Linked DNA regions of Homo sapiens: region 1 is reported to be linked to region 2. The links are microRNA targets in miRTarBase. Many come from high-throughput screens and were not tested one by one. Region 2 holds a microRNA gene; the other region holds the end of a gene's coding sequence.

Evidence for each region. The annotated mature microRNA hsa-miR-3618 reads UGUCUACAUUAAUGAAAAGAGC and lies in region 2 at 1,392-1,413, shown strand. An mRNA with a match to its seed (bases 2 to 7 or 8) in the 3' UTR can be bound and repressed. Matches are read on the target gene's strand: a 7mer-m8 pairs with bases 2 to 8, a 7mer-A1 pairs with bases 2 to 7 and ends in A, and an 8mer does both.
Region 1: the mRNA of FREM1 is a reported target of hsa-miR-3618. The part of its 3' UTR that is shown has no 7-base or 8-base seed match.

Annotation. Positions count from the first base shown.
Region 1 is chr9:14,733,704-14,737,861 of GRCh38, forward strand. FREM1 (FRAS1 related extracellular matrix 1) reads right to left here. Exons shown (of 37, transcript NM_001379081.2): 37 at 3,449-3,892. The coding sequence ends at 3,693. Among named protein-coding and RNA genes, the nearest start is that of CER1, 13 kb to the left of the region's middle.
Region 2 is chr22:20,084,406-20,088,405 of GRCh38, forward strand. It overlaps MIR3618 (microRNA 3618), which reads left to right and starts at 1,341; the gene lies at 1,341-1,428. DGCR8 (DGCR8 microprocessor complex subunit) reads left to right here. Exons shown (of 14, transcript NM_022720.7): 2 at 1,282-2,278; 3 at 2,757-2,916. The coding sequence starts at 1,559. It overlaps MIR1306 (microRNA 1306), which reads left to right and starts at 1,653; the gene lies at 1,653-1,737.

The sequences.
Region 1 (4,158 bases), not on the chromosome of region 2:
TTCTGTCTTTATAGATTTGTCTATTCTGAACATTTCATATGAATGGAATCACAAAATATGTGACCCTTTGTGTCTGCCTTTTGCTTATGATAGTGTTTTCAAGTATACGGTGAATTTTATTATACTCATCATTCAAAGATGAGTATATTTTACTTGAATATAATAAAACTATCTGCTCAGAATGCTAATAGATATGTGGAATAATTAGAAAAGATTCAGCCTAAAATGTGGAAGACCTCAGTTCTAGTGCTGATTTCTTCACACAGTAACTTTCTCTGTTGTAACATAAGAGTATTAAATAAGATGATATCAAAGGTATCTCTCTTTAATTTCTGTTATTCTAGGAATCCCTAAAATACAGAGACATGTACTCATCATTTTGGAAAAAGTAGTTGTTACAAAATCAATTAACTAGATATAAAAACTTTAGTTCCTAACTTGATTCTGGAGACAGAAAATTTGAGACGGCTGCTATCAATAACACTTTGACCTGATTAAAAGTTAGGAAGTTAATATCAGTTTCTTAATCAAGAAAGAAATATAACAAAATTCAGCCTGAGCTGTTTGTATCTGTGTGTTTCCCTTCAATTAGGAAAAGGGATAATGTAATCACTGATTTCCACTGTGACTTCCTTCCTGATAAAAAGCTTGAGGTGTAAAAAGCTATTATAAATTTGCATATATATGCTATGCTTTTATACTTCTGTTTTTATCTTATTCCCTACAATAGCTCCAGTATCTGGAACAATGTCAGTTGCATGGTTGGCATGCCATGTTCAATATTTGTCAAATGAATGGTGGTTGGATGTATGGACACATGGAAGCGATACAACGAAAGGCTGGTCTGACCAATAAAGATAAAAAACATGTTGACTTTTCTCCTCCATCCCTTGCTAAATAGAATCACTAAAATCCAAAACCCATGTGCCCCCAGGAATAAGATAAAACGTTAAAAGCTAAAGGAAAGTGTCTCAGAACTTAAAACAAGTTTATTAATTTTGCTACAACACTAGATGTAGTACATTTAATATGCTGCTTTGTTGCAGAAATTAATCAGCACCAGTTTATGGTTTAAATTATACAGTACCATAATGTAAATTAAAATATGTGCATATCTTTTTGGTTGTATTAAAAATAAACAAAAACAGAAGTTAAATTAATGTCACCTGGTTCATTTTCACCACTTCTTGGAAGGAGATGAAATGATTATCATATGTTGCTTAAGTTTATTGTTAGCAAATAGATGCTATGTTTTTGTTAAAGACCAAACAATCAGAAGATTCTGAAAAGCTAGACACTATTGAGCTGGACTGACGCCCCTGGACACAGTGGGCCTTTTCCTGAGGTGGTATTGAAGTTTGGGGAGAAAAGCTGGGTACATTCAGGTCCTTCTTGACGCTTTCCTTCCTAGCTACCATCAGTTCCCATCCTCTTCTGTTCAACCCATCTCATCTCTCTCTCCCGTAATCTCTCATTCCCATTCTACCCATTACTCCAATTCCTTCCTTCCCACTCCCATCAGAAACTATCAATCAAGGCAGAGGGAACCTTGACAATCATTTACTTCTTTTCCCCCTGAGTCAAAGCTCAATTGTAAGAATAAAATGAAGGTTGTGATGAATACCGCCCATCACCCAAACTTGCCTGAATTTCTATTTTTATCTTCTTAAAATGACTTGGATTTTCTAATTTGATTAATGCTTTCATGATCAGGAATATTTTTAAATATTCTTGTAGCATTTCTAATTGTTATAAAAATCAAAACACTCTTTATGCTAACATTTGCAATTAGTTCAGTATCATTTATCATTTATATTGCAGAAATGTATAATAAATCTGCCATGCTGACAAGGTTCTACACAGTTGACATAGTTCTAGATTTCCAGTTTTAGATGGTTTATATAGTTTTAGAGTTCCAGTGGAAGGAGTGGCCCTTGAATCCCTCATTTCCCAAACTTCTACTTCCTTCCTAGGACTTAACCCTTTAGGTAAACAACTATTTTTTCTTTAGCCCAAATCTCACATTTCCATACTGCAAGAAGCCTGTGGACCAGAAGGAATTTGAAAGGAGCTGGTAAGAGGATAGGTGTGGCATCTTTTGGTTAAATGCCAGAAACTGCTTGTGTCTCACAGAGAACCTGTACATTATGCCAATCTGGAGCCCACCTGCGACATCTCAGGTAAGGACCCTCTGACACTATAATTATGTTTAGATTTAAGTAATAGACAGAATGTCTGGATCATATTCCAATATCTCTTTCTAAATGTTTCTATTAATTACAACCTTGATAAATGAACTGAAATAAAAAAAGCTTGCCATGTTTTTATATCCCAGAAACTGAACTGACTTTCTTCAAGCAGTTTTAGTGTCTACAACACTCAAGGTATTTTTATAATAAAACCAGCACCAGAGCTCTAGCCTACTTGATAACCCCAATTTGATTCTGAAGTTACATTGGTGCTCATAGAGCAAGTGACATTTGGCACAACCATATTTCTCAGTGATTATGAAAAGAGAAAAACTTTAAATAAATGTTTCAGACATTCTAATTTCCTATAACTGTTAAACCTTGATTTCAGAAGGGAGTTCTGGTAACGCTGCAACATACTTCATTGTTACAAAAATGTTCCACTCACCTGAGATTATAAATTAATAAGGTACCTTTCCGTTAGAGAATCTAGTTAACATGGCATTTCTGCAAATATTAAAGATTTAAGGTGGCTCAAAATTCCTCAAAATCCTTTCCGAGAATGTAGGCTTTCAGGGGCTCTGTTTTCGGTATTATTTTTCTCTGTTCATCAGCACAGTTCATCAGGACATTTCTGAGGAAGCAGTATTTTTCTTCCATGTGTCAACCATCATTCATATATACTCCTTATCCCAAGTGTCCCTGAGAAATGCTTGTCAGTACAATAAACACAGAGGAACAGATTATGTTACTTGAAATTTCTCATGACTCTGTAAGGCTGGGGAAACCCAATCATTAGCTTTGGGATGGTACAATGCCAACACTCAAATTGGAAAGGGAGATCTGTTTCATGAATAGTGATGAGTAGAACTCTGAGTACAGCCAGCCCCCCGAATTCTTACCTGAACTACAGCTTTGTAGATGAGCCTCCACCTACAAGATTCTTTCATCTAAAGTCTTTCTTTTTCATCATAGAAAATTCTCTTTTTCAACCCCAGCCTCTAATCTTAGATTTCACATTTAAAGGGCTCCAAAGGGACAACTTTGCGGTTCAACTTTGGTTTAATGAACTAGTAGAGTTAGCTTCACTCAGACTAAAGTGGTAGGAGCACCTACGATACATATTTCAGAATAAATTCATTAGAGGTAACGGGACCAAAAATTTTTTTTAAAAAAATCCAAGGACTATGAGACTGGTGCTCCCTGAGATTTGGAATGGGGTAAGGGTGAGGGTCTTCTGGAATAAACAAACCTTACACTTTATAATACTGCTGGCATTTATTTTAAAAGGTATTGAGATACAAAAATTGTATCTTATCTTGTAAAAAATATTTATTTATCAATCTTTCTGGCACTATTAAAAATGTCCCATTTTCACTAGACAGAATCACAAAGGTATACCCACTCAATCATAACAATTTGTTTTCTATGGAGCAATATTCACAGATCCTGTGAATAAATAGGTGACAAACTCCAGGTGGCCCCCTGTAGGGTCTGTTATATTTAGAGTTTTCTGGAACACACATAATTATGAGGTTTGGCTCTCCTACAGTCTTTTGTTTGCCATTTCCCTTGTCTTTGAACCAAAACACAGCTCTTTCCAAGCTTGGAGCGTTGAGAGGGCCCTCTTCTCCCATTGGTGAAGGCAACAGGTTCACCACCGATCCACTCCCAGTGGCCAGCATGCACTTGGTCGTTCAAACCTAATGTGAACCAAAAGAATGTACCAATTACTTTTATTGCGTTTATACTTAGATATCATATCCAGCTGTTGCTCTAAGCTCAGTTATCACATGCAAGTGTGGGCCCAGGTTCTAAAACAAGGGATAGGAACTTGGAATACTCTAAGACACAAACGGTCAAACAAATCCCAGTCCAATTCTAGCTCTACCACTTACTTGCTAGATGAGCATCTTTGGGCAGGTTACTTAACCTCTCTGAGTTTCAGTTTCCTCATCTAAGGAATGGG
Region 2 (4,000 bases):
ATGCAGGGTTTTCTGGCTGCCCCCTCAGACCCATCTTCCCTGCTTCATGTTGTCCCTTTCTTCATGCTTCCTCTGTAGTAAGGCTTCCTAGAGTTGCATCCTTAACCCTCATCTCTGGGTGGCCTTCCTCCTGTGGGTTTGGCGACTACCTCCTCAGTGCGTCCTGGCCTTCCGTATCTGGACCAGTCATGGCTCCAGAGTTGTGGCCTCGGCACCTTCAGAGCCTGCCTGGAGGTCCCCTCTGTTCTCCTCGCCAGGCTCCTGCCTGCATGCTGGAATTTGGGTGTCCTTCCTTGTCTTTAGTTCCCTCTTTTCTCTGCTATCCACCTCCGTTGGGTCAACAAGTGCGGTCAGTTCTGTGACACTGTTCTTGGCCCATTGCCAGGGCCTCTTTCACACCTTTGTCCTCTGGCCTGGAGGACTGTCCCCGTGCCTTGGATGCAGTTGCTTCTGCCTGGCACAGCTGTGGGTCTCCCCTCTCAAGTAGGAACCTACTTGTGGCATGAGAGTCGCTTCACCTTCAGTGGCTCCTTATTGTCCCCAGGGCGGAACGGGCTGCAGGTGGCACCCAGGCCTCTCTGTGCCTCGGCTCCAGCTGTCTCTTGTGGCTCCCCACCCCAAATCCTGGCAGGTCCCTTCCCCACAGCCACCCACCCCTCTCCTCCATCGGGAACAGAACTATGCTGCCACCTCTGGTGACCTCAGCACGCTGCATCACTGTCCCCGTCCACGTGCTACCCTGTGGGCCCAGGAGAGCCCTGGGGTCCCTGGGTAGCAGAGCGCCTGGCCATGCCTCTGAGGCCCCTAGTGCCGCAGAGTTGAGCTGAGGGTCTCGCGCTCGCCCTCTGACTGACCCAGCCCTTGCAGGTGAGTGGATTGCTGTGCTCTGGTGGCCTGAGGGAGGCCACGCGCCTTCTGTGTGTTCCAGAAAGGGTGCCTCCCACTGCATGCTTGCTTATCTGAGTTAGAAGAATGCTGTGGTGGAGTTTAGTGTAAATTTTTAAAATATTTTTTGAGCCTTATGATTATATAGTTTTTGTGTTTCTGAAGTAGGAATTAAAGTGGGCATTAACAAAATATTTAACTTTGGACTTAAGTTATAATTCAGGTTCTGAAGAATAAAAGTAAGGTTAGTTTGTTTTGATGCCTAAAAAGTCCTCTTAGGGAATATTATTTTGAAGCCCTTTACTATGCTGTTAATAGTGCTTGGCTTTTAACTTGGTACCAGGGAATTGGAAGGTTTCTGTCATTTTGTGACGATATTTTTAAATTTCTTTGCAGGTAGAAGAAGAAAGGTGCCACTCCGGCATGAAGACAGACTCGCTTAGTCGCCAGTCACTTAAGCTGAGTGCATTGTGATTTCCAATAATTGAGGCAGTGGTTCTAAAAGCTGTCTACATTAATGAAAAGAGCAATGTGGCCAGCTTGACTAAGCCGCCAGCGCACAGCGCGGCAGGACGCGCCCGGGTCTCAGCGGACTTGTGCATGTTAGCTGTGTAGATTTATGTGAGGGCTTGTAAAACTCTGGTCTTGTAAACTAGTCTTAAGCGCTTTTAATATGGAGACAGATGAGAGCCCCTCTCCGCTCCCGTGTGGGCCCGCAGGAGAAGCGGTGATGGAGAGCCGAGCTCGCCCCTTCCAAGCGCTGCCCCGTGAGCAGTCTCCACCACCTCCCCTGCAAACGTCCAGTGGTGCAGAGGTAATGGACGTTGGCTCTGGTGGTGATGGACAGTCCGAACTCCCTGCTGAGGACCCCTTCAACTTCTACGGAGCTTCTCTTCTCTCCAAAGGATCCTTCTCTAAGGGCCGCCTCCTCATAGACCCGAACTGTAGTGGCCACAGCCCGCGCACCGCCCGGCACGCACCTGCGGTCCGGAAGTTCTCCCCTGACCTTAAGTTGCTTAAGGATGTAAAGATTAGCGTGAGCTTTACCGAGAGCTGCAGGAGTAAGGACAGGAAGGTGCTGTACACAGGAGCAGAGCGCGACGTGCGGGCGGAGTGCGGTCTGCTCCTTAGCCCTGTCAGTGGGGACGTGCATGCTTGTCCCTTTGGCGGGAGTGTTGGTGACGGGGTAGGCATAGGGGGTGAGAGTGCTGATAAGAAGGATGAGGAGAATGAGCTGGATCAGGAAAAGAGAGTGGAGTATGCAGTGCTCGATGAGTTAGAAGATTTTACTGACAATTTGGAGCTAGATGAAGAAGGAGCAGGCGGGTTCACGGCTAAAGCAATCGTTCAGAGAGACAGAGTGGATGAAGAGGCCTTGAATTTCCCCTACGAGGTATGTTGGCAGCCCCTCCTCTAGAGGGCTCTTAGCAAAACCCAAAGAGAGATTTGGGAATTGCAGCATCTTTTGAAAGCAGGGAAATTAAAAAAAAAAAAAACAAAAACCAAAATCCCCTCTGAGGTGGAATAATGTTAATGTGGAGAAGAGAAAGATGTAAGGAGTCCAGATTTTTAAAGTTTCCTAATGAAAAGTTTGGCCCATGGGTAGGCCCTGCATCCCTGATCTAGCGCGTGGGGCAGCAGGTGCTGCTGAGTTACGCTCCTTGGCAGTGTGTGCCCCTGGACCAGGTGTGTTGGTGTCAGCTGGTAGCTTCATCCTGTTTGTTTTTCAGATGATCATGCACCCTAAGGGCACATCTAGGCCCCCTGAGAGCACCTCCTTTCTGTGTCTGTTCTCAGGAATGCTGTTGAGCTCTCCTGTTGCAGGAGCATGAGCGCCAGGGGCTCTGGTGTCTGAACAGCGTGTTTTGCAGGATGACTTTGACAACGATGTGGATGCTCTGCTGGAAGAAGGCCTTTGTGCCCCCAAAAAGAGGCGAACAGAGGAAAAATATGGCGGAGACAGCGACCATCCGTCCGATGGAGAGACAAGTGTGCAGCCGATGATGACCAAGATTAAAACAGTGCTCAAAAGTACGTGTGTGGGTCAGAAGCAGTGGGTGTTCCAGGGCAGTGGAGGGGTGGTTGCTTCCTTAGCAGAAATGCTTTGAGAGAGCTCTGGTGCCAGGTAGTGGGCTGGGTGGAGGCATGTTTGAGGACAGGACAGAAATATCTGAGGAGGGAAACACAGGATGGGAGGACGTCCTGATGCATGACCCAGATGCGGATCCTGGTGTGTGCTATGGAAACCACAGAGCAGCAGGCACTGTGCAGAGGAATGGGAGGGGACTTCTGAGGGGGTCAGGAGGGGATGTTGGTATATGCCAGGAGCCAGCATGACCATCAGCTGGAGGGTGTGGAGACCAAGGGCAAGGTGGGTACACAGTGAGATGGCAGGTGATAGTTGTGATCCAGGTTCTAGTCCTGGACCAAGTGTCACAGGAAGCCACCAGAAGCAAGTGGTGTTACCTGATTTTTGTTTAACAACATGGCTTCTGGGCCACAGCATGGTGTGTGCACTTCAGCTGGGCAGGGTGGAAGTGCCCTGGTCGACGTGGCACTTCCTCAACTTTGAGTTGAGGGTAGTGGGGAGAGCACTTGAGAGGCGCCCAGAGTTGCACTGTGAGGCTCTGTCATCGATGTGGTGCAGGTGTTGGGGGAGTCGGAGTTGGTGGCTTGGAGGCACCTATGAGGGTCCTGGTGGAGATGTGGGGCTCGGTAGAGGGACTGAAGAGATGCACGGGGACTCAGGCTCACAGGTGAGACCCCAGGCTGAGGGCTGGGGTGCACAAGGTGGCAGGGTGCGACTGGGAGCAAAGCAAGGGGCGGGTGGCACATGGCCATCCTCCTTGGGCCATTGAGGGGACAAGTTAGCTATGCCAGGTGCCACATGTTGCTGCCTATGTCGTGTTGGTAGCAGTTAAGCAGGAGGGCTTTTGGTCTAGACGGTTGCAGGCAGGGTAAACCTGGGGCTTCAGCTTCTGGGGCTGGGGGCAGGAGTCTTGACCTCGGGGCCTCTAGGAGGCTGGTTTGGTGCTGCATTTTCAACAGGCTCATTCAGAAGGTAAACCCACATTCGTCCTGCACAGCTCACTGGTCAGCAGCCATTCTGGCCTGG